Linked DNA regions of Homo sapiens: region 2 is linked to region 1. The links come from fine-mapping of genetic effects on gene expression. A gene starts in region 1. The other region holds a variant in brackets. All regions are shown on one strand. Distances are between the middles of the regions.

Region 1 (2,904 bases):
GCATTAGCATGTTAAAAAAAAAACAACTCCCACCAGCGTCATGACAGTTCACAAATGCAATGGCAACGTCCAGAGAAGTTACCCTATAGTCCAAAAAGCGGAGGAACCGTTAGTTCTAGGAAATCCCTGCCCCTTTTCTGGAGAACTCTTGAATGATCCACCCCTTGTTTAGCATACAATCAAGAAATAACTATAAGTACACTTAGTCGAGAAGCCATACTGCTGCTCTGTCTACGAAGAAGCCATTCTTTTTTTTCTTTACTTCTCTATTAAACGTGCTTTCACTTTATAGACTCTCCCCAAATTCTTTCTTGCATGAGGTCCAAAAACCCTCTCTTGGGGTCTGGATTGGGAGCCCTTTCTGTAACAGTACTAAAGGTGTGTGTGTAGCTTAAGGTGTTTTTCAGAACAGTATTTCTTTGCTGACTCATGGCCACTCCATAAAATCTGTGTTAAAGGTGAGGTTTTTCCCAGAACCTAATTTTTTTCTGACTTCTTGGATTGGGATGATGACTTCGGCTTTTCTCGGAAGGCCTTGGTCACACCGCTGGCCGATGAAACAAGGAATTGTGCACACTGGGTCTCAGCTCTCTGCGTTTTGAATATTTCTGCATTAGTGACTGGCTTGGGTCCAGTCTCCACCAAGAAGCCACTTATGACCCTTGGACAAGTCTTTATTCCTTTTTAAGTAAGCTTCTGGATTCTGCCGGTCCTGTTTGGGGTCCCTGGGGCTCTTTGAGACAGGAACGTTACAGAGCAGTTGAAGGAGAATAGAAACTTCCAGGCTGCAGTTCTGTCTAACAAAAGGAAACTGTTGAAATAGCTGCACAAGCTATGGGCTAAGACCCTGAAAAACCAGGGTGTGGGTCAACCTGGCTAAAACCAACTGGACCCAACGTGGTGTGGCTTTGACCTAGGCTTCACCTAGGACTCATTAACATACTAAGTCACACACCCACCGGCACCACAACAATTCCGGGAACACCCATATTTGGTGTAAAAATGGGTGGCACCACAGTTCTGACAAGTCTCCACCTTATTCCAGAAACCTTTGTGTATATTCCATTTCTCAAAGAAACCCATAAAGATGGAAACCCCAAGCCCCATTGTGTGGCCCTCTTTTGAGTCCGCCCTTTCTTCAGTGTGTACTTTGCAGTAAACCTCTGTACTTTCACGACTTTCCGACTTGTTCTTGAATTCCTTCGTGAGGTGGTGAAACCACCTTTGAAAACTTATGACAGAGGCAGTAAAAGAGATACACATGTGGAAAGGAACCCAGTCTGGGGCTAGGCCCCGCCCCCCTCCTGCGGGCAGCCCAATCATACCCAGGCCCGCCGCGCTAGTCTCCGCCTCTCGGTGCTGCCTCTTCCGGGCCTCAGGTTCTTCCCCATGCCCACGCCCCTCTTTCGCGTCGCCGTATCCGAGGTCGCGCCAGGCCCTGGAGTCCCCAGTCTCCGCGTGCTGGCCAATCAGACCCTGCCTCGCCCCCTCGCCTGGGAGTCTCCGCCCTCCACGCTCTGCCCAGTCAGGCTCTGTCCCGCCCCCGCGGCACCGCCTCCGCGCCTCCATCCAGCCGGCTCCCTCCGGCCGCGAACTGCCCCTCCCCGCCCCGCCTCCCGGCGCGGGTGGCCGAGGCGTAGCGCTGCGACCCCCGCACCCCTGCGAACATGGCGCTGCGAGTGGTGCGGAGCGTGCGGGCCCTGCTCTGCACCCTGCGCGCGGTCCCGTCACCCGCCGCGCCCTGCCCGCCGAGGCCCTGGCAGCTGGGGGTGGGCGCCGTCCGTACGCTGCGCACTGGACCCGCTCTGCTCTCGGGTAAGCGCGGCGGGCACGTGGGCGGCTGCTCCCTCCCCGCCTGGGCTGCTTGTCCCGGGCCCAGCGGGACACGGAGGACGCCGGGGCACCGCTCCTGAGCCACCGGGGCGGAGCGAGCGCGGACCCTGCCCCCTTCTTATTTCTGTTGGGATCCCTGGCTCTGCGGCCGCTTCTCCCCCTTAAGTAGCGGGAGGACCCGCGAGTAGCCTTTGCCCTAGGGATTGCATGCAGCCGGGAGGGGAGGCCTGCGGGACACCGAGGCGGGGGTGGCCCGGCGGGTCCGGCGGGCAGGTCGGCCGCTTGCTGCAGAAGCCAGGCACGTGTCGCTTAAGCGTCTCGGTGGCCTTAAGTTTATCTCCCATCTGCGTGCATCGTTGAGACCCCAAATGGGGAGGCCTTTAGTTTACTAAATGGACCGTTACTGAGAACTCCGAAGTAAAATTAAAACAGAAGCGCTTATTAAAATTAAAGCACCAGGCAGGGCGCGTTGGCTCATGCCGGAGGGCGGATCACGAGGTCAGGAGATCGAGACTATCCTGGCTAACACGGTGAAATCCCATCTCTACTAAAAGTACAAAAAATTAGCCAGGCGTGGCGGCATGCGCATGTAATCCCAGCTACTCGGGAGGCTGAGGCAGGAGAATCGCTTGAACCTGGGAGGCAGAGGTTGCAGTGAGCCGAGATCGCGCCACTGCACTCCAGCCTGGGCGACAGAGCAAAACTCCACCTCAAAAAAAAAAAAAAAAAAAAAAATTAAAGCGCCAGATCTAGATTTTTTTACTAGATAAAACAATCATAACTTTGAAGATTCAGCTATTTCCCCAAAACAAGTAAGATAAAGTCTTCTGGACTCAACAGAAGTTCTGCTAAAGTTTGTATTGGATCATTCATGTGTGTGCTTGCTGAAATGAGCCCTAACTCAAACGGACTTGAAATAACTGGGAAACCTGCCCATGAATGTTTCGGCCATTTGTGCTACTTCAGCACAATTATTGCAGGGGAAAAACAATTTTCTTTTTTTTTTTTTTTCTTTTTATTGAGACGGAGCCTCGCTCTGTCGCCCAGGCTGGAGTGCAGCGGCGTGATCTC
Region 2 (2,904 bases), 41 kb before region 1:
AGAAAGAAAGAAATCCTAAATCCAGGTGTAGAGCAGAGGAGGCAAGGGGCACAGTTTCCCTTGGAAGGAGTCGGGCAGTGGGCAATCCCTGGGGAACCCCTAAGGGGAAGAGATACTGGATTGGGGTGTAGGGGAAGCCACCGAAAGGAGGAGATATTTAAAGCAAATCTTGGTTGGGCGCGGTGGCTCACGCCTGTAATCCCAGTACTTTGGGAGGCTGAGGTATGTGGATCACTTGAGGTCAGGAGTTCAAGACCAGCCTAACCAACATGGAGAAACCCTGTCTCTACTAAAAATACAAAGTTAGCCAGGTGTGGTGGTGCATGCCTGTAATCGCAGCTAATCCCAGCTACTCAGGAGGCTGACGCAGGAGAATCACTTGAACCCGGGAGGCAGAGGTTGCAGTGAGCCGAGATTGCGCCATTGCACTCCAGCCTGGGCAATAAGAGCAAAACTCCATCTCAAAAAAAAAAAAAAAGAGAAAAAGATTACAAAATTAGTCGAGCGTGGTGGTGGGTGCCCATAATCCCAGCTACTAGGGAGGCTAAGGCAGGAGAATCACTTAAACCCAGAAGGCGGAGGTTGCAGTGAGCCTAGATCATGCCATTGCATTCCAGCTGGGGCAATAGAGCAAGACTCCATCTCAAAAAAAACAAAGCTCATCTTTACACCTATGGGACTTTGCCAAATCCCCTCTCGTCCCCCATTCTTCCCTGAACAGCCTTTACCATAAGACTCAAAAAGCATCCGACACCTCCCTTCAACACTAGGCTCGCAGGATACTAAGAACAGGGCTGCGTCTTGAGCCTTTCTGTTCCCCAAGTGAACCACAGGATCCTCCTGTGTTTGTGTGGAGCAGGCGCAGAGATCACGTGGCTGAGGCCTTGCAGCTGAGACCCTGCACCTGAGCGCATTACTTAATACTGGAGGAAAGGGAAGGAGCAGGGTGGGGCAGGATCCCTGTGCTGAAAGCCCTGGGGGAGAGCAATTCTCCTTGCGGAGAGATCAGAGACCCCTCAGACAGGTGAGCGGTAGTAGGTGGGAAGGCTCAGGGGAGTTCTAGGACTGGCCAGTCCCCCATCTGGTCTGCGAGCCAAGGCCTTGCGGTCCAGCTTCATGACCACCTCCCATCTCTGCAGAAGGGAGCTGCATTCCCCCAAAACACAGGGCCCTCCCCAACATACAAACGTGGCCCCAAGCCCCACGTGCTCGCAGATGAGGGGTTGAGAGTTACCAGAGTGGGTTCGAGGACCTCCCTGGGTATTTTTCAGGTGCTGGGATTCGCTGCTTTCTTTGCACTGGTCTTGAAGAGAGTGGACGATGAGGAGGATACTGTGGCCCCGCTGCCAGGACATCTGTTGGGCCCAGGTAATGTGCCTCGGTGGCTGGAGGCAGGGTCTGGCCAGCTGCGGCCCTGATGAGGCTCAGTGAGCCCTGCAGAGTGCAGCCTGTTGGGGGTCCTGGGCCTTGGGCCAGCTCCCCAGACCTTTGTTCCTCATCAGCTTTTCACCCCCAGTTTGTGAGCCATCCCCAAAAGAGCCAGGAAAAAAGTGACTCCATTGTCTCCTGAGTATCTGTGTTTGTTCGTTCCCTGGCATTTCTCCATGACACCCAAGTATGACCTGCCAGCTAGAAGAGTTGCCTCAGGGACGAAGCTGTCCACATGGG[C/T]GGTCCTTCTCTGTGTAATTCCAAGCAAGCAGCTTTCTTCTCCGAGACTCAGGGCCCTGGGCTTTAGAACAGAAACTAAAACAAGAATCGGTTTACAGGAGGCTGCAAAAAGTGGCCGCAAATTAGAATTTTAGGACAAAGCTCTGCAAACTACAGCTGGGGGGCCACATGTCTCCTGCTGCCTGTTTTTGTAAATAGAGGTTTGTTGAAATACGGCCACACTCACCCCTGCTCTAGGAGGCCACTGGCCAGTCCCCATCCTCCCAGCCTGACTTCTCACTTCCCAACCAAAATTCCCAAGGGTGGTGACAGTAATGACAAAACAAACATGCAAATAAAACTGAATCAACGTGGAATCATTGAGGCAATGGTCTTGCCTTTCAGGGAAAATAAAATAGAAACAAACAAACCAAATGCCATGCACGTGCCTCACAGTGCAATGTGGCTACCTCTTCAGGGCCTGTATTCTTCCATTCCAGGACAGCGTTTTAGATTTGCAGATCTGAGAGGTCCATTAAAATCTTCTCAATTCTCCACAGAGATGCTAGGCTCCAGACCATTAAATATTCATTCAGTCACCCCTTTGGCAAGTCCTCAGGGAGCACTGGCTGCGGGCCAGGCCTTGTGATGGCTTGGGAATATAATTTACATAAAATTCACCCATTGTAAGTGCACAATTTGTTGATTTCAGTAAATGTATAGGGTTATGTAACCATCACTGCAATTCACATTTAGAAGAGCTTCGTCAGCCCAAAAGGTTCTTTGTTGCCCATGTAAAGTCAATCCCCACTTCCAACCCCAGTCCCTGCCAACACAGCACAGGTTGCTGCCTTTGGAATGAACAGCCCATTTGGGGAGATGGCATCAACCAGGTAAATGCACAAGTAGACATATAAGTGTGAATTATGGTAAGAAATAGGGTTGGGGAAGATCAAGAGAGGGCAGGCCTCTCTGCTGCGGTGGTGCCTAACCTCTCTGCTGAGAACGGGGGAAGGGAAGGACTGCACACTCAGCACCTGCAAAGGCCGCGAGGTGGGACAGTGGTGTCGTTTTATTGCAGCCATTTTATAGCAACCATTGACAGTGTGTCTGGAGCATGTTGAGTTGGGGGTGGGGGAGAATGGTTAGAGATAAGGGTAGAGGGGGTGGGCAGCAGGTTGTCAGGGTCTTATAGGAGCTGGGGCAAGGCTGGGATGTGGAAGGGCTTTACATATGAGAATGATGATCTGTTTTATG

What was found. PIP is the estimated chance that this variant, and not a neighbour inherited with it, causes the effect.
Region 2: its variant is fine-mapped to the expression of GCSH in visceral fat (GTEx, PIP above 0.99). The same link has a PIP of 0.9 or more in subcutaneous fat.

The regions. Positions count from the first base shown.
Region 1 is chr16:81,095,042-81,097,945 of GRCh38, reverse strand. It overlaps GCSH (glycine cleavage system protein H), which reads left to right and starts at 1,551. Exons shown (of 5, transcript NM_004483.5): 1 at 1,551-1,815. The coding sequence starts at 1,668. RefSeq lists silencers at 1,215-1,314, 1,465-2,134.
Region 2 is chr16:81,135,901-81,138,804 of GRCh38, reverse strand. It overlaps the pseudogene PKD1L2. Among named protein-coding and RNA genes, the nearest start is that of GCSH, 41 kb to the right of the region's middle. RefSeq lists an enhancer at 642-1,259. The variant C/T (reference allele first, on the strand shown) is at 1,669.